Regions from separate parts of the Homo sapiens genome. Here region 1 is linked to region 2. Evidence: fine-mapped expression QTL. A gene starts in region 2. The other region holds a variant in brackets. All regions are shown on one strand. Distances are from middle to middle.

Region 1 (10,213 bases), 420 kb after region 2:
AAAAATTTTTTTAAAAGAGTTTGCTTGTTTTTACACTGTGTAAAGGTTTTCAAATTTTTCATCTCTTCATTGAAAAGTCTAATAAGAAGAGCTGATCAGTAGTATATGACCAAAAAAGAGAAACTGTTCAACTTAGTTCAATATCCTTAAGAAGTGTACTAACTAGGAAGAGACAAACGCAAGCTTATGTGGAAGCGTGTGTAGTAAATGGTGGCGCTCCTTCCCATTCCCTCCACAGATGGCTTCCTGCTGAGCTCAGTCAGGGAGGCACTGGCAGAAAACTGAACGAGAGAAGCCAGACTATCTCTTCCCCTTCTCTCCCAGCCTTGGCCAGCATCTGGACAGGCACTCTTTGGCCCCAGCTTCCCTAGAACAGGCCCCCAAAGTTCCGGCTTCTAAGTTACCCTGCCCCTTGCACTTCCCCTCCTTCCCACAGCCTAGGGAGAATAGAAGGTTCGGTTGCTAATCTTCCCCTGCATTGCCTCACCTTCCCTTGAAAGGCTTCTCAGCTCTTCCACCATATTCACAGCCAGCTAATTCTCTGGATTAAATGCCCTCTGGTTTAAATGCTTAGAGTGAGTTCTGTTTTCCTGTTTGGACCCTAAATCTGGCAGCTAAACAAAAAAAAATGAATTTACTGCACTGAGGGCAAAGACCCTGGCTCCAAAACTGCCAAGTTCAAGGTTCACTGCTATCAGTGTGGGTCCATCCAGATGGAGTAATATAGAGGAGTGAAGAGACAGAACTGATTTCCCTTTTCTCCCAAAGGAACACAGGAGAGAAAATGAATTTGGAGAAAACAGAGAGAAAAGGGTATTATAAATTTCCTGCTTCCCAATCCTCGAGACAATATGGGGAGGAGGCTGCTGAAAAAGACAAGGATGTGACTGAAGCCCCCCCCACCAAAATTTGGGATGAGTCAAAGAGGGGAATTGACCTGTATAAAAACCAAAAACACTGAAAAGATTATAGTACTCCCCTCCTCCAAAAAAGAAATAAAAATAAAATCAATAAATTCAAATTTCCCCATAGTAACTATTTCCATGTTTTTTTTTGTTTTGTTTTTGAGACAGAGTCTTGCTCTGTCGCCCAGGATGGAATGCAGCGGCACAATCTCGGCTCACTGCAAGCTCCGCCTCCCGGGTTCACGCCACTCTCCTGCCTCAGCCTCCCCAGTAGCTGGGACTACAGGCGCCCGCCAACACGCCCGGCTATTTTGTATTTTTAGTAGAGACGGGGTTTCACCGTGTTAGCCAGGATGGTCTCTATCTCCTGACCTCGTGATCCACCCGCCTCAGCCTCCCAAAGTGCTGGGATTACAGGCGTGAGCCACCGCGCCCGGCCAAGTACTTCCATGTTTTTAAAAACACAGCAACATCCTTTCCTCCAAATCTATTTAGTACCACTGCTTTGCTGGGACCCTAAAGGCACACACTTAGTCTGCCTACCGGGTCATCCAGCAAAAGGCCTGTGCAGCCTGCCCTGACCAGAGCTGAGCACAGTCAGTCTCTCAGGGAGGGAGGCGTTTGCTGCCATGGGGGAGCAAGGTGCTGAGGCTGAGTCTCCTGAGGACCCAGCAGTGGTAGAACTGGGGTATGACCCCTTCAGAGTCCCATGTACATTCAACGAAAACCGGAATAACCCAGATTAACCATTCACTTCATTCAACCAACTTATAATAATTTTTGACTGTTTTAATGAAATTTATCATCAGAGAATAAAGTTTGTGCACCAATACACATTTTTTAAAGTGGCTATAAAACTGAAATAACAATGGATTGTTTTTTCACATATAAAAAGATCTTCAGAAATAATAATACGGGCCAGGTGTGGTGGCTCACACCTGCAACCCCAACACTGGGAGTCCAAGGCAGGAGGATTGCTTGAGCTCAGGAGTTCAAGACCAGCCTGGGCAACATAGCAAGACCCCATCTCTTTTATTTATTTTAAAAATTAAATAAATAAATAATTTTTAAAAAGAAACCTGGGGCTGGGCTCGGTGGCTCACGCCTGTAATCCCAGCATTTTGGGAGGCCAAGGTGGGTGGATTATCTGAGGTCAGGAGTTCGAGACCAGCCTGGCCAACATGATGAAACCCCATCTCTACTAAAAACACAAAAATTAGCCAGGCCTAGTGGCATGCGCCTGTAGTCACAGCTACTTGGGAGGCTGTGGCAGGAGAATCGCTTGAATCCAGGAGGCAGAGGTTGCAGTGAGCCAAGATAGCACCACTGCATTCCAGCCTGGGTGACAAAGCAGCCTCCGTCTCAAAAAAAAAAAGAAAAAGGAAACCTGGAACAGTATAAATCAAAATGTTAAGAGTGACTGTCTCTTTAGGAATAGTATGTGTTAGAATTTATACATATATATTTCTTTTCTTTTCTTTTCTTTCTTTTTACTTAAGACAGGTTCTTACTCTGTCATCCAGGCTGACAGAGTAGTGCGATCTCAGCTCACTGCAGGCTCAACCTCCTGGGCTCAAGCAATCCTCCTGCCTCAGCCTCCTGAGTAGCTGGGATTATAGGCATTCACCACCACACCTGGCTATTTGTTTTTTATTTTTCGTAGAGACAAGGTCTCACTATATTGCCCAGGCTGGTCTTGAACTCCTGGGCTCAAGTGATCCTCCCGACTCAGCCTCCCAAAGTGCTGGGGTAACAGGTGTGAGCCACCATGCCTGGCTGTACTTTTCAATAATTATGTATTACTTTTGCAATAAGAAGCTATATATGGGTTTTTTTAAGGTACCACAAGGATAAAAGAATACCAAAGGACTTTTTGTAAATGTCACTGAAATAGGTCTGTAGTCTCCACTTAACAAATACACCAGTAAAGTTTGAGAGTTTTATGTATAAATTACCAGCATATTTGTTTATGAAGACATATTACTTTAAAACACAACTTTATAGCTCATTTATACAACCCCACCACAGTTAGTATGCAGCTCAAAAAATATTTGTTGAATAGTCTAGTATAAAACTTTTTTTTTTTTTTTTTTTGAGACAGAGTCTCGCTCTGTTGCCCAGGCTGGAGTGCCGTGGTCCGATCTCGGCTCACTGCAAGCTCCGCCTCCCAGGTTCACGCCATTCTCCTGCCTCAGCCTCCTGAGTAGCTGGAACTACAGGCGCCCGCCACCACGCCCGGCTAATTTTTTGTATTTTTAGGAGATGGGGTTTCACCGTGTTAGCCAGGATGGTCTCGATCCCCTGACCTCATGATCCGCCTGCCTCGGCCTCCCAAAGTGCTGGGATTACAGCCGTGAGCCACCGCGCCTGGCCTCTAGTATAAAATTTTTACAAATGATCTGGATGAAGAAGAATACAGTGGAGTTGTTAGTTTGCATATGACAGTAAGTTCCTCCAGTTACACATCAGTCACATTTGATGTTACTGTCATCTACTTAAAACTCTTACCATGGTTTCTATAATAGCTCATACTCATAGTCATCCTTCCATCTCAATATCCAGCTGATGTCTCCCCGTGATGAAGATCCTCTTCTTCCTCTGAGCTCGAAGCTCCCCATCTCCAGGCTCTAGTCCTCAGATTTCTGCATTCTTCTTTCCACACTCATTTCCTTGGTGAGTTAATCCATAACCATGCCGTCACCTGTCACCTTGATGCATATAACTGACAGTAGAAAATGACCTTGTTTCACTGGGTGTGGGCATATGTGTCACTGTTGCTACATATGTAAGGTATCTCAATATTGCACAACAGTAATTAATAGAATTGTGTAGTACAACTCCCCAAGGAAAAGATTGCTTGGAATATTTGAGAAAGAGTTGTTGGCACAAATGGCAACTCCTGCCTCCCCTCCCCCAAAAGCAAACCAAATAAAAATAATACATAAATAGAAAAAAAGTGAGCAAAGCATGTGTCTAAAATTCTCAGGTTTATGGTGTTATACCTTGTTTGGGGAAGGAAGGAAGAAACTATGTAAATGCAATAATTGGCAAACGGAAGATAGAGAAAAAAGGTCTTAGAGTCTACATTTTTAAAACTCACTTACATGAACAAAGTACACATTTTTATCAATCACATCTTTGTTTTTTAATTTTTCTGGCAGTCAGTCCCAGCCAGCTGGATTACAGCCAGATTACTCTTGTGTACTCAGCTTTAAGGCAAACCTAACTGCCTCCCTTCTCTTCCAATCAGATTTCTCCCCTTAAGCTTCTCCTACATAGAAATTACAACCCACCACTTAAACCCAGGGTATGTTAAATTTAGGTCCTGAAATAAGCTAAGAGCTAGCCTCAGACCCAATTCACAGAACATAGAGATTATAGATTTTTGGAATTAGAAGACAGCAATTTTGGGCTAATTTTTCATCAATCTTCACTGAAGGGTAGAACTACTAACCTTAACATCTAGCTAATAAATATGTTTCAGAAAAGCAAAACGGGAGAGAAGGAGATGGTTAAGGAGAACAGAACTTCCAAGGCTCAGAACCACTAACACCTCCAGAAGGGGTAAAGGAAGCATCTAATCATATCTAGGCCAATAAAGCTGGCTGTGCTCCGGGCTGACTGCTTTTTAGGACAGTGTGTAAGGACACTGGTTCCGGGACTTGCCAGCCAAGCAGAGGGGTTACTATAAATATTTGTTACGGAAGTTACTCCTCAGAAAAGGAGTGCTAGCCAAACTAAACCAAGATCAAGAGCCAAGGAGAATCAACTGGGCTAGAGAATCAGAGGGGCAAAGATAGAGGCAAAGACAGAGAAAAAAATTAAGTTCAGCTTCTAGAAATGATAAAAGGGCAACAAAATTAATGGGATGCTTCAGATCCAGAGACTGAAATTCACTCTGATCCTACCAAACCTCACCAGGTTAAAGGTTTACCCTGAAGATATAATACGCCTGTGTGAGTACCTGTTCTTTCCTCTGAACCCCTGCTACTTCCTGGAGTTCAGGTTTTCTTCAGATTTGACAGGCAGAAGGCTGCTCTATTTATTAGGGAGATGCTTAGCGGAGGCTGGGAGCTCCAGGTGTGCTCCTCTGATCCTCTGTAGCCTACTCACTCATTCAATTATTATAAGTAACCTAAGCATCTCCAGGAGTGCAGCCAAACACTCTTAACACTCCCCTACAGCTGACTGTAGTGGTACACCCTCCATGACACCACACTGTCCAGGTTTCTTCCAACCAGCTGGCAGCTCTTTCTCAGTCTCTTACTGACCCTTCCTTCTCTACCTGCCCCTGGGTTGATTGATGATCCTCAGGGATCTATTCTAGATTTCGTTTTCCACTCA[A/G]CTCTCTCTCTCTCTCTCTCTCTCTCTCTCTCTCTCTCTCTCTCTCTCCATGGTAATACCTATGCCCATTGCTCCAATAACCAATTTCTATGTGCCAAGAATGAATCACCAGTCCATTTCTATCAGCTTTCAAATCATATACCTAATTGCCCACAGGATATCTTCACTTGATGGTCTTGTAAGAACTTTGAACTCAACATCCAAACAAGACACATGATTTTCCTCCAAAATATCTTCCCACCCAGTGTTCTCCTACTCAGCAAAGGACACTATCATCCACATAGGTGCTCAGCCAAAAACCTCAGTTATTCTTGAATTCTCCATCTCCCTCACTACTCTCCACATCTAAGCCTTGCTGGACATACCTCCAAAATATGCCCCAAATCTATCTTCCCTACTACCTCTACCCTATGCAGTTCAAACCACCATCATCCTTCATCTGGACTAATTAACAATCCCTTAACTTGTCTCCCAGCATCTAGTGTTGATCCACTCCAACCCACACTATAAAACATTCAAAATGCAGTACTGGTAAGAATCTTAGGCGGAGAAACTGAAGCAGTCCCTGCCCCCAGGTTTGGCAGTGAAGGAGCTGAAATGAACCAGACATGCAGATTTGAACTACATTAAAATTTTTAAGTTAATTTTTTTAATGCAGTGCTGGCAAAGTCAATCCTCTGCATAAAACTCTTGAATAGCTTCCCATTGTGCTTAGGATGAAATACAAACAACTGATCCTGAATTTCAAGGTGCCCCATGGTCAGGTCCCTGCCTCTCTTCAGCCTCATCTCACGTCACATCCCTCTTCCTCATCCTCTACACTCTAGACACACTGAACTTTTGTTCCTTTAATTTCTCTCATCTTTGCACGTTGTTCCTTCTGCCTGAAACTTTCTTCCGACTTTTCATCTGATTACCTCAAAATCATTATTAGATCACAGCACAAACCTTCCTACTTCCTTTACAAACTATGTTCTCCCAAATATGTGTACTCCAATAAGACTCTGTATTTTCTCAGTAATATTTCTGAAGCTTAATATTGCTCAAACTTCATTGTATTCATGTGTGTTTATTCCCTTATCTCTACAAAATACTGTGTCCTCAGTGCCTAGCACAGTACATGGCATAACAGACTCAATAAAAGAATGAGCGAATGAGAAAAAAAATGAATGACAAAATCAGGGTGGGTTGAGCTCCTCAGGGTGAGGAGAGATAACAGGTGGATGCTGATGGAAACAGCATCAAGGACAACAAGACAAGAACCTGTCCTCCCAAGTCTGACAGGGCCAGGTACAGTAGATGTGTTTCAACCACATGGTTCTTTCTTCCTTGGCAATGGGTGCAGCCAGGGCTGTGACACTGGTGGTGCTGAGGCAGGTACACATGGGCACGCAGTGCCCCTGCAGCTGAGTGCACCTAGCCCCCTGCTCAGCTAGGCCGCTTGCTACCTAACTTATCTCAAATGGGCCCAATCAGTCCCTCCTGGACACAGTAAACAGGCCTGCCTCATTCCACATTCAGTCCTGCCTCAGTTTATCGAAAGTGGTGGGTGAGCTGAGGGCACCCTCTACTCACATGAAGGTCTTGTGCATCTTCACAGTTGCCTACATTGTCCCTCTTAAGCCCCCAAACCAGTTTAACGTAGTCCTATCTGATCATTTAATGTCTTTTTAGGTACTGCTCAGACTCTCCTGAATAAAAACTGCTCAGTCTCTCAGATAGCAACCCCTCTCCTGCTTATCTACCTGAGATGGATCTGGATATATCAGGGGAAGGGGACTTCATAGCAGCAGGAAAAAGTTGCAACCCTTGAGGAAGTGCTCCTCTAGCTTCTTAAGATCTCCAGGCCAATGTTCCTTTGCCCCTGTTTGCTGCTTACTCTGCTGGCAACCATGGTCCAGCTCTGTGCTAGTATAACTCCAGGGTCTCTCTCAGCCTGGAGATAGCCTGAGTGGTACCCTCTGGCAGAATAAATTGCACCATCTTCCCCTGGCACTATTTTTTCTGAGTGTGGTTGTGATACCTATTGCACCCCTCAGATGCATGCAACAGAAACCCTTCATAGTCTCTGTGCCAAGGGCTTCCCTGTTGCACATAGGGAATGCCCCACATCTTGACCTCCAGGGTCAGACATCTCCATAAAGTCTCACTGATGTCTCTTTCAAAATAACCTGTCCACGGCCAGGCACAGTGGCTCACATCTGTAATCCCAGCACTCTGGGAGGCCAAGGTGGGTGGATCGCTTGAGCTCAGGAGTTCAAGACCAGCCTGGGCATCATGGTGAAACCTCATCTCTACAAAAAACACAAAAATTAGCCAAGAGTGGTGGCACATGCTTGTGGTCCCAGCTACTTGGGAGGGTGAGGTGGGAGGATGCAGTGAGCCACTGCATCAGAGCGACAGAGCCAGACCTTGTCTTAAAGAAAAAAAAAAAAAATCTGGCCAGGCACAGTGGCTCATGCCTATAACCCCAGCAATTTGGGAGGCTGAGGCGGGCAGATCACCTGAGATCAGGAGTTGGAGACCAGTCTGGTCAACATAGCGAAACCCTGTCTCTACTAAAAATACAAAAACTTAGCTGGGTGTCATGGTGGGCGCCTGTAATCCCAGCTACTCAGGCTGAGGCACAAGAATCGCTTGAACCTGGGAGGCGGAGGCTGCAATGAGCTGAGATCGTGCCACTGCACTCCAGCCTGGGTGACAGAGTGCAAAACAACAACAACAACAAATGTCCACTTAATGTCTACATTTCTTTTCCTATTATCTAGTTCTAGTCTTACCAGGCTATGTCCAGGCTCAGCAAGAAAGAATGCCATGATGAATTTAATGATGTCTGCTATGGATAGATGATAAAGGAATCAAGCCATGAATAACGTATTTGCTGATGTAATCTTTTTCCTCAAATCCATCAATATAAATTAATCTGCCCTCTTTATTTGTATCTACTGAAATCCTACTCATCATCCAAGACTAGATCATAGAGCTCATCCTGCTCTGATTTAACCCTATTTATTATTTGGCTATTTAATATTGGTATTAGTTTATAAATGTTAATAGTAAATGGAACTTATTTTTGATACTTGAAGTGGCTTGAAGAATGGTGGTATCATTAACACATAGTATGACTCATTTTAAGGAACACATGAATGGCTAATTATAGAAGGTATCTGGTCCTCTGGCTATCAGAAAAGAGATCTAAGAGTTCTCTAAATGTAGTATTAATGAACTCTTTCGGCAAAAAAAAAAAAAAAAAAAAACCAATTTGCTTAAACCAAAGAAAAGAGCATTAAGGCTGGTCATTACACCTCAACAGTAACAGGAACATGAGATCATTTGATATGATTCTGCATGCAGTACTGCTCTATCACATGACACATTGTATTATAGTTGGCCGTATGCAGCCCCAGATTCCCTTTTCTCTGCAGATCAGTGACTCTTTTTGGAAAGAGGTTCATGCTCTATCATACAATAATATTAAGAAGATTACCAACAATCTAAAATGCTTCCTTCAACTGAGGTTTTGAGAAATCACAGAGAGGCAACAACATTTTTCTTGACTTTACTGTATATACAATGGAGGCTCATTATAATAAAAACACAATTTCACCCACTCAAATATAAACTCCAAGGGAGCAAGGACATTGTCTAGTGTTTTCATTACTGTATCTCCAGTGCCTGACTCAGAGTAGGTAATCTATATATATTTTACTACTGAACAGTTACTACTTAATCAATATTAGATGAAGATAATATAATACACAGAACAAAAGTTTAATATTTCTATTCTACAACCTGTCTTTTGAAAGAGGCAGTCATCTTTATTCCAGATTCTTCCTTTCCTACTGTGTCTTTTGTGCAGTGAGAACAAAATTAAGCATGCGATCAAAATGGATCATAGACATAAAAGACCTAAATGTAAAAGCTGAAATCATAAAACTTTTAGATATAGGAGAAAATGTAGGAAAAAAATCTTTGTGACCTGGTGTAAGGGAAGATTTCTTATGCAGGATACAAAAAACACTAGCCATACAAGAAAAAAGCAAAACATTAGACTTCACCAAAATTTAAAACTTCTGCTCCTCAAAAGACACTATAAAGAAAATAAAAAGGCAAGCCACCAATTAGGGGAAAATATTTTTAATTCATATACTCACAAAGGACTTGTATCCAGAATATATAAAGAACTCTTAAAACTCAGTAACAAGAAGCCAAACATTCCAGTTTTTTAAATGGGCAAATACTTTGAATAGATTTCACCAAATATGAGATACTGGTGACAAGAAAGCACATAAAAAGATGCTCAATGTCATTAAACATTAGGAAAATGCAAATTAAAACCACAATGAGGCAGCACTACACACCTACTAGATTTTTTTTTTTTTTTTTTTTTTTTAAGAAACTGACAATACTAAGGCCGGCACGGTGGCTCATGCCTATAATCCCAGCACTTTGGGAGGCCGAGGTGGGCAGATCACAAGGTCAGATCGAGATCATCCTGGCTAACATGGTGAAACCCCGTCTCTACTAAAAATAAAAAAATTAGCCAGGTATGGGGACGGGTACCTGTAGTCCCAGCTACTCAGGAGGCTGAGGCAGGAGAATGGCGTGAACCCAGGAGGTGGAGTTTGCAGTGAGCCGAGATCATGCCACTGCACTCCAGCCTGGGCAACAGAGCGAAACTCTGTCTCATAAAAAAAAAAAAAAAGAAAGAAAGAAGAAACTGACAATACTAAGTGCTGACAAGGATGCAAAGCAACTGGAACTCTCATATAATGCTGGTAAGTGGAAAATGGTACAGACTCTTTGGAAAACAGTATGGCACTTCTCTTTTTTAAAAATTTATCTTATTTTATGAATAAATCAGTAACTTTTTTTTTTTTTTTTGAGACAGGGTCATGCTTTGTTACCCAGGCTGGAGTGCAGAAGCAAGATCATGGCTCACTGCAACCTCCGCCTCCTACACT
Region 2 (10,213 bases):
TTCTTCTTTTACTTTTTAAATGTCTCTCTTTAATCCACCTGGAATTTATTTTTGTGTAAGACAGAAGAGTGAGATAGTTTTAAATCCTAGATCCTACAGTGGCTAGTCTGGCCAGGCCTACATTATGGTTAATATAGTACAATTGACATACCAACTATCCACTAATATAGTCCAGCCCTGGGCTGGAATATGAGAGACTTTGATCACTACTCCATATACAAAACAAGAAGCAATCCTCATCCCACATCTCCTTAAAAATCACATGCTGTCTGAAGGCTCCTCCAGACCCACTGGCATCTGCTTTCCTCTTTATTAGTTACTGTATTACTGCACTAACATTCTTACAAGAATCAACTGGCTCAAGCCAAGGGATCGTCTGTTGCTGTGGAAACATGCAGAAAGGACATGTAGGGCCTTGACTTACTACAACAACTAAACTAAGCAACACGATGCTTCAGAAGGAAACTTTCTAGGGCCTTTCAGGAACTCCAGACAGAAAAAGGGCCAGTTTTCAAAAGTGAAAGACTGTCCCAAACCCACTTTCAACTTTCCACATTCCAGAAACATTTGAAGTCAAGCAGACCTACGTTTGAAGCTGCACTTGAGCCATTTATTACCTTGCTACCTTAGTGACACTGCTCAACTTCCACACCGATCCATTCTCATCTGAAATATGACACTACCACTTAACCTGTGGAGCTACTGCTGGGATCTGAAAGTGTACCTGGTATACAGCAAATGTGCAGTACAATTAACTATCATGCATGAGATTTCCCTAAACTTCCCTCCACCACTGCTACCAATAAAATTACTTCTCCAGAAAGCTTCCCTTTAATTCACCCATGTCTCTTTCTTCTCCTACAAGAAATAACTTGTCACCGGGTGCGGTGGTTCACACCTGTAATTCCAGCACTTTGGGAGGCCAAGGCGGGTGGCTCACCTGAGGTCAGGAGTTTCAGACCAGTCTGGCCAACATGGTGAAACCCCGTCTCTACTAAAAATACAAAAAGTTAGCTGGGCACGGTGGTGGGCGCCTGTAATCCCAGCTACTCGGGAGGCTGAGGCAGGATAACTGCTTGAACCCAGGAGGCGGAGGTTGCAGTGAACCGAGATCGCACCACTGCACTCCAGCCTGGGTGACAGAGCGACTGTCTCAAAAACAACAAAACACCATAATAGTGCCTTACTGCTGTACTCTCTCTGTGGCTTGTCTCTCCTGTTCTCTTCCCCGACTCAGCCCTCATGATTGAGAGCTTTTCAACAGCTCCACTTGTGCTGCCTCCTTCATGACCACCTGTTCTTCCTCAATATCCCCCACAGCTGGTTACCTCAATATCACTTCACCCAGCTGGTTTCTTCCTGCCTCTAAACCTACGTCTCTTTTCTGGATCTCTTAACAACCAAAGGAGTCATCCAAGGCTTAGCCCTAACCCCTCTGGTTTTTGCCTGTGCCCATCCTCCATAGACGCTTTCCGCAAGGCTGGGGCCAGTTTATTTTCCTCTCATCAATCTGTCATAGCTGACTGCCTATATATCTCTGTATAATACATCAGAAAGAGAGCTCCCGCCTAAAACCTCAATTTACTCAGTACACTTCAAAGCCTAAAGGCCTTGTAACTCCTTTCTCCCACTAATAGTAGCTGGAATTCACTAGATACTTAATATAACTGTAAGCACTTTATAGACACTCTTTAATGTAATCCTAAAGATGCCACATAGCATTATAAATTATATTATGCAACTTTTACAAAGGAGAAAACTGAGGCCGGGCAGTGGTGGTAGTTATATACATTGTCTGAGATCACAAAGCTAAACTCACACTCAAGCAGTTTAGGATAGCATAGAATCTTAACCACTAGAGCATATCTTTAAAAAAAAAAAAAAAGAAGGAAAAAGAAAACTAAGAGAGAAAAAGTGTCCAATCAGTTCTCTAAACTCCAAAGGAAATGCTGACCACTGCATATTACCAACTTCAATTACACTGTCAGGAATCTGGCTTTAAGTCACCAAATGCTTAGTTCACTAAGAAAGTCCCTCCTAGGAACTAAGTCAGCAACCATTTCTTTCCTTCCCTTTGCCGAAGGCTTGATGCACAAAGGACCGAGCATCCAACTCTATTCTCTCCCTTTTACCTTCCCTAACTGCCCGTCACCAAGATCTGTCAGTTCTACATAGGACCCTTGGATCTGACATTTTTGCCCATTTCTTTGTCAAACGTGAGCATCTACTACATGTCAGACACACTGCTAGGCAGTGGAGATAAAACAGTAAGGGTAACACTGTCCTTGAATCAGGACAATCTTCCAACTACAGATCTTGGGTTCTGCTTCTCCCAAATCTGTTCCACCTGGGACAGCCACAGCTGCCTGTCTGTTATCGCACTACACCCCTGCTAAAACAACTAAACACTGCAACAGAATGTGGTATATTCTAAGAGTGGGTAGACTTGGGGCTCAGCTATTAACTCGTGCTTTTTTAAGCAAGTCGTTTCTCTCTAGGATTGCTTCTCTTCTATTAAATGAGGAAGGTTAAACTAAGGGTCTAAGAAGTCAATTTTAAAATTCTCAGACAAATGTTAGAGACCACCCAATGAAAATATCCCCTAATCACTTAAGGCCAACTTCATCTCACAATCACAGCCTAGTTTAGTCCAACCTACCCGCTATAAAGTTGCATATTCGGGCATATTACATGTTCCCACTAAGTTCTTATTGGGGGACTGATTTGTTTAGGAAGCAACATGGTGCAGTCAAAAACTCAAGAGGCTGCAAACTAGCAGCACACCCACCAACCCATCCATCAAAAGGTTCCGCCTGGCTGGCACAGTAACTTGAGACTGCTGGATCTGAATGCCTTTACACAGAGCACTACTATAGTGCAGCAAAGCCTCAGTCTCCAACACTTCTACTGTCTCATGTCAAGCCAGCTTCTCTCGTATATGTTACCTACCTGGCTCCTTAAGGTTTGAATTTAGGGTAGACACTACTCCTATATGCCCCAGTAGTGCCCTATTCTCCCTTAGTTGGAATTTTTTAAGTGAATGAAAAGCCGTATTTCATTTCTTCTAGCTAAATTTCCTACTTCTTTGTATTATTAAGTAGGTCTTTTCCACTCATGATCCTAAGCATCACACACAGGTTAAGGCATCCAAAGGTCAAACTGCCATCCTACCTGCCCCATTTTTACTTGAGTTTGGCTGAGAACATTCTCTATTCACCTCTTCATCCCTCCCTGATTGGTTTAGGCTAATCTTGGGTTCTGCTTAGGCAATATTGCCTACCAAAGCTGTTCCCAGAGGAAGAGCTCCAGAAGTCCTAGCTGTAAATCAATCGCTCAACGATAGCAAACTCCTACCGCGCTTGGCAGTTCTTTCTCCAGACCTAGATCATCTTTCGAGTTCCCTACTCCCTCCTTCCTCCTCGTAATCCAACACTCTGTACACCTTAAGTGCTTAAATGCTGAACTGCATTGCTACTTTTGTTTGTATCTCTCAAAAACGATATTTCCATTCTTATTTTTTTCCGCCCTCCTTTTCTAATAACGAGTTCTGTGCTCGGCTCAGACTTATAAGCTTATAAGTCTGGAAAAACTGCGCCAATGCGGTTGCTTCAGAGACCGGACTAAAGGCACAGCAAATGCTTAATGAAAAGTTGCTGAATTGAACGGGCTTCTTCCGGCTCCGGAGCCTGCCACCCTACACTTGCTTTCTCGCTCCGCCCGCGCCCAGAAGCACTCAAACATGCTGAGAACCGAACAGGCTTCTCGAGCCTAGGTTTCTGAAAGACCGGGCCAGGGTCTCGTTTCCTGTTTGCACTGCTCCCTAACCTCCTAATTCAGCAAGGAGCACGAGTCACACAGAAGCTCTCGGACCCACTGTGGACCGAGTTTCCAGACAAGTCCTCTCGCCCCAAACGCGCCCGCACTCTCACCCGGACCCCCCGGCGGCTCGCCGTGCGGCTGGGGCCCGGGGGCGCCGCCGTCCAGGATGGCGAAGGCCTCGTCGTTCTCGATGCCCGCAATCTCGCTCTCTTGCTGCGCCAAGAAGGCCGCAGCCGGGTCTTCTTCGCCGGCGCCGGCCACTCCGTTCCCCAGCGCGGGACCGCCAGGGGCGCCGGCAGGGGCGCCGAACGGATCCAGCTCAGCCATGGCGGGCAACTGAACGGCACGGACACCAACGGTGAGACAAAAACCAACCGACCCACCGACACCACGCCCGGCAGCCACCGCTGTGGTGCCGACTGGGAGAGGAGGACAAGCGCCAGGAGGGAGACGGGTAAAGCGGAAGCCCTACCCGTGTATCCGGTCGGTCTAGGCGGTGTTGCAGAGCCGAAAAGGGAACAACCAATCAGAGGACAACAATGGTTCAGGAGCTACCCAATCAGCAAGTGGAGGGGCGGTCCCCCTAAAACAACTCGTGACTGGGGTAGGGCGGGAGGTGAGGGAGGTGAGCTGCGCGGGCCCCGGGAGGCGGAAGTGCTGCCTGATAGGGAGCGTCCTACCCACCCCGTCTGCTGGAGCTGGACTGACCAGGGACGGCCACCCCTGAGGGGACTCTAGTGCTGCACTGGGAGGTGAGGTGAAGTTAGGGCAGCGACGATTGGCCGATTACTGAAGAGGCATGCCACTTAGGCTTTCTGAACCTCAGTTTCCTCATTCGTAAAATAGAAACAAGAATCCTGCTCTTGCGCCCCCTCCCGGGATTATTAGAAGATTGAATCCTAAAAAAAAAGAAGAAGAAGATTGAATCCTTTTATGGATTTGAGGGTCCCTGGCTTTATAAATTTAAAATATTTAATTCTTTCAGCCAGCCTGGATTATTTGCTCCCTTAGAGCCCATAGATTTACTGTAATTGATTCAGTCCACTCCGATTTTTCTCGCCCATAAGTATTTTTATTTAAAAATGAATATATCTTATCTTCTTCAACGAAGCACTTTTGCAGCCATTACGTCTTTTCGGAGCTAGACAGAAGTTACTAAACCTGGAAAATTCCTTAAGGATCACTTGCTTCAAAGGGAGACACGGTGGCCCTGCTGTTCAAGGAGCGTCAGTGACCCAGAGAGTCAGTGACCAAGAGGAAACGCCTGTCTCCTGGGGACTTCCAAGATACTAGCTACAGTCTCTTATATTTACACCTTTCCTCCCTAAGGACAGCAGGAAAAAGAAAGTTCCGTGTTTCTTTTTAAATCAGGGAGATGTTAATAGCTACATGGCTCATTTTGTCTACACCACAGAAATAACAGTGGTTCCAGTTAATCATGCTCATGTTGAGGGGGAGTGCTTATGCAGGGGCCACCAGAAGACCCCTCTCCTTCACTACCACCACCACCACCCTAAGAAATGAAAAGCCAAAAAAAGAAACCAAAAAACCAGAGGTCAACAAGAAGCTTCCAGAGGTAGTCAGCAGGGGACAAGAAAGTGTTTTTATAAAAAACGCACATATCTTTGATGACAAAAAAAAAGGGATAGCTATGAAGGAAAAATGAAGCAAATAAAAATTATTTAAAGCATATATTTACTTAAAGCATAATTTTAAAGTCATTTAAAGTATGAACCATAGGAAAGTGTTGAAGAAAAACATTTAAGAAAGTTAAAATGTTAGGGTCTGCAATTGATTCTGTTTCCCCTTGTCTGTTGTTTTATGCTCATCCCTAACATACATTGGCAACAGTGCATGAAGTATTTTCACATTAGCCTTGACATAGTCTCATGAGGAAAAGAGGGGCAGGGACTACTATGAGAGAGCCCAAGGAAGACAACTTTTAGTTGCTCACAACAGTAGTAGCTCCGGAACAGACAGCATTCTTTTTGGGGAAATGCATGACTTTGGGAGAAACTCTCCTGTGATTCCCTTGCTAGAGGAGGCATTACATATTATGCAAAAGCAACAAACAAGTATACACTCAAAATTGGAGGAATAGCTGATGTGTTTACGGATGATTTCACAGAGGTGGCTTGGAGCTCAGTTTTGAAATATGGGGAACGTTTAGAAGAGTCAATAATGAGGGTCTAATGTTAGTGTCATGTAAAAGTTCAGAGGTGGGAAAATGTTTGGCATGTTTTGGGGACAGTGAGTAAATTAGTTGGAGTCTGAAGAGCTCAGCAAGATGAATAATTGAAGGAAAATCTGGGGACAGATTCTGGAGCCCTGAAAGCATTCCATGTTAAGGAATCTTAATGGCAATAAGGAACCATAGAAGGTTTCAGATAAAGGAATGTTTTGATCAACTGCTGCTTAGGAGGTTAATCGGGTCCCTGGTTGCAGGATGGATGGGGCAGAGGCTGTGGGCAGAGATGTCAGGAGTGACATGATGAAGGTCTGGGCAGGGCAGAGGTATGGAGCTGAGTGGGGAGCGTTGATGGGAAAGCGGGTCCCAGTAGGGAAGTGACTAACTTGGTGACCGACCAGAGGTACGGGCTGGGAAAAAGGCAAGGGGAAAGGATGGGGTCATAAATCATGAATCTGTGAAATTGCCAGAACCATTAGTTTGAGGGCTTTGGGGGAGCCCAGGTGATTGCTGGGAGACAGAAGATTTAGAAGATGTCCAGGAACTAGAAGTGTGTAGCCTGCCATGATCCCTGGTGGACTGAACAAAGGTGGGTGGGCAATGGGAATAAAAGACAAGACAAAAGAGTATATTTGGAAGAAGGGGTCAGGGGGCACTTTGCCTCTAGTGGACAAGGGCCCTGAGTTTTACACATCCCTCCGTATTTCGTAGGCAAAAGAGAGCGAGAAAGGGGGGGTGATTGTCGGTAATTGTCAGTTAGAGGTTTGGTTCACAGCAGGCTTGTGAGACTGCATCTTTTGAACAATAGGTGCTAGATTTCTTAGATAACTTCAAGGAGCCCTGCACCAAGGAGTGATGTCCATCAGCAAACCTTTTGGTGGCAGGTGCAGTGTGTTTGCTCACATCCTACATTCATGATAAACAGTTTGCTGTTTGATCATATAGCCTCCAGTGGAATGCTGAGTTGGTCACGATCCCTTTGGCCTTTTCGGCTCCCAACAGAAGTGTGTATAGGAGAGAGTGGGACCACAGATGGAGACTAGAGAGGGAAGGACTGAGGCCTAAATCTTGGAGGATGGCTATATGTGAAGGAGGTAGAGGGGTGGGTCAGAGAGATTGGAGAGGGTTCAGTTAGAGCTGGGTGATGGAAGTCAAGCAGAGTTTGCAGAAGGAAGGAGTGACTAGCAGAAAGGTGAAGAATGAGAGCTGAGCAGATGCTCTTGGCCATCAAGTTCCCTGGTCACCTTGGTGAGAGAGATGTCAGTGGATGCCAGGAGTGGAAATCAGTTTGCACTAGGTTGAGGGATGGAAGCATAGTGGACATCTGTTGGTTCTGCCTGCCTACATCCAATTCCCTTTGTTCTGATACCAGCACTCCAATATTCCTTTGGGGAACCATTCTTCCTCATTTTCAGTTTTGTGGTTTGGATTGAGTGGACCACCCCCATGTGACCCAGGCCTGGCCAATTAGAACATCCCATTCCCTGCCCAAATGATTGGGAATGGACAAGTGAGTCAAACCAGGCTCATGAGGCTCAATTCCAGGACTGTTACTAGAATCTTAGGGAAAGAGCTAACTCTTTCTGCTGGAGCTGACAAGCAGGCAAAGTGTAAGCTTAGAGCTTCTTGTGGTCATCTTGTCATCAAGAGGAGAGATTGAGAGTGAGAATGAGGTCAACATGGAGGAATGCAGAGAGTGAGAAAGACAACTTCCTGTTGGTATCATTGAGGACCTGGATTCAGCCATGCTTGAAGTGAAAGATCTACTTCTGTACTTTTTGGCTCTGTGAACAAATAAATTCTATTTTTTTTCCCCTTAAGACAATTTTGAGTTGTGTTTCTGTCATAAAGAATTCTGCCTAATCCAGGCCAGGCACAGTGGCTCACGCCTATAATCCCAGCACTTTGGGAGGCCAAGATGGGTGGACCATTTGAGGTCAGGAGTTCGAGACCAGCTTGGACAACATTGTGAGACCCCGTCTCCACTAAAAATACAAAAATTAGCCAGGCATGGTAGTGTGCACCTGTAATTCCAGCTACTCAGGAGGCTGAGGTAGGAGAATCGCTTGAACCCAGGAGGCGGAGGTTGCAGTGAGCCGAGATCACGCTGCTGCACTCCAGCCTGGGCAACAGTGTGAGACTCTGTCTCAAAAAAAAAAAAAAAAAAAAAAGAATTTTGCCTAATATAGAATGAGAAGTGAGGGCAAATTTAAATGTAGAAGACATTAGAAAACTTTGCAGCCGGGCACCGTGGCTCACACCTGTAATCCCAACACTTTGGGAGGCCGAGGAGGGTGGATCATCTGAGGTCAGGGGTTCGAGACCAGCCTGACCAACATAAAGAAACCCCGTCTCTACTAAAAATACAAAATTAGCTGGGTGTGGTGGCACATGCCTGTAATCCCAGCTAACTCGGGAGGCTGAGGCAGGAGAATCACTTGAACCCAGGAGGCGGAGGTTTGCGGTGAGCCGAGATCACGCCATTGCACTCCAGTCTGGGCAACAAGAGTGAAACTCCGTCTCAAAAAAAAAAAAAAAAAAAAAAAAAAGGTTTGCAATGAGGGCCGGGCATGGTGGCTCATGCCTATAATCCCAGCACTTTGGGAGGCTGAGGCGGGCAGATCACTTGAGGCCAGGAGTTTAAGATCAGCCTGGCCAACATGGCAAAAACTCACCTCTACTAAAAATATAAAAATTAGCCGGACATGGTGGCATGTGCCTGTAGTCCCGGCTATTGGAGAGGCTGAGGCATGAGAATTGCTTGAACCTGGGAGGTGGAGGTTGCAGTGAGCTGAGATCATCCCACTGCACTCCTGCCTGGGTACAGAGTGAGACTCCATCTCAAAAAAAAAAAAGGAAAGGGGAAAGGAGGAAAGGAGGGAGAGCTGTGGCTAGAGAGGGCTCTAAGGTTGGGGTGATGTTTAGGTAAGAGAGACTTGAATGCTTGAATACATTTGTATGCCGAAGATAGAGGTTGAAGTCATAGAAGAAGGAGAGGTGGTGGGAAGGATGGGCTAAGGAGGGAGGATTTTAGAGGCAGAGACAAGGCTGAGGACAACTCTGAGGGACTCAATTGCTCCAGTAAAGTGAGAACCAGTAGAAAAGAGAGGAGAGGTTTAGAACCACCAAGGGGAAACTCAATAGATGATGGCCAAGAAAGACCTAGAAGGACTGTATTGTTCTAGTCAGGGTTCTCCAGAGAAACAGAATCAATAGAAGATGCATAATATGTATACATGTATATATATCCATATGCTGGGGAACAAAACACCATGGATTGGGTGGCTTAAACAGCAGAAATTAATTTTCTCACTGTACTAGAGGTTAGAAGTTCAAGATTAAGGTTCCAGCTGATTTGGTTCTAGTGAGGGCTCTCTTCTTGGTTTGCAGATGGCCACCTTCACTCTGTCCTCACATGGCCTTTTCTCTTATGTCTCTTATAAGGGCACTAATCATATTGGATCTAGGCTCTACCCCATATTACCTTATTTAACTTAATTAGTTCCTTAGAGGCCTCTACTCCAAATATAGCCACACTTGGGGTTAGGGCTTCAACATGAAGTTCTGAGGGGACACAAATACATAGTCCATAGTAATGTGTATATCTCTGTGAATGTGTATATATACATGTATAATACATATATACATGTATGTATATGCATATACATGCATGCACAAATATATACATATATGTATACATGTGCATATGCACATACATGCATACATACATGCATATATGTGCATGCATGTATATACATATGTATATGTGCATACACATATATATACACATGCATGTGCATGTATGCATACATGCATATACATAGGCACATACATACGTGTATGGATACGTGCATACATACGTGTATGCATGCATACATACATATATACACATGTATACATACATGCATATACACATACACACATATGTGTATATATATACATGCACATACACATATGTATATATACATACACATGCATACACGTATGTATATACATACACATATGTACACATATGTATCTATACATACACATAGGTACATATATGTATATATACATACATAGAGACTGAGAGTGAGACAGATAAAGAGGGGCACAGACACAGAGATTTGTTTCAAGGAATTGACTCACGTGATTGTGGAGCCTGGCAAGTCCAGAATCTGCAGGGTAGGCCAGCAGGCTGAAGTCCCACGAAAGAGTCGATGTTGC

Alleles and levels. Alleles are on the strand shown, and positions count from the first base shown. SD is a standard deviation of normalised expression in the study named.
With allele G in place of A in region 1, the expression in CD8 T cells of the gene that starts at base 4,282 in region 2 is lower (moderate effect, 0.59 SD a copy in CEDAR).

The links. PIP is the estimated chance that this variant, and not a neighbour inherited with it, causes the effect.
Region 1: its variant is the best candidate, but not a certain one, in a credible set for the expression of CLTA in CD8 T cells (CEDAR, PIP 0.72).

The regions. Positions count from the first base shown.
Region 1 is chr9:35,765,577-35,775,789 of GRCh38, reverse strand. It overlaps a transcript of RGP1 not described here. Among named protein-coding and RNA genes, the nearest start is that of MSMP, 16 kb to the right of the region's middle. The variant A/G (reference allele first, on the strand shown) is at 5,250.
Region 2 is chr9:36,184,990-36,195,202 of GRCh38, reverse strand. CLTA (clathrin light chain A) reads right to left here and starts at 4,282. Exons shown (of 5, transcript NM_001833.4): 1 at 3,930-4,282. The coding sequence starts at 4,146. RefSeq lists enhancers at 4,087-4,306, 4,022-4,647.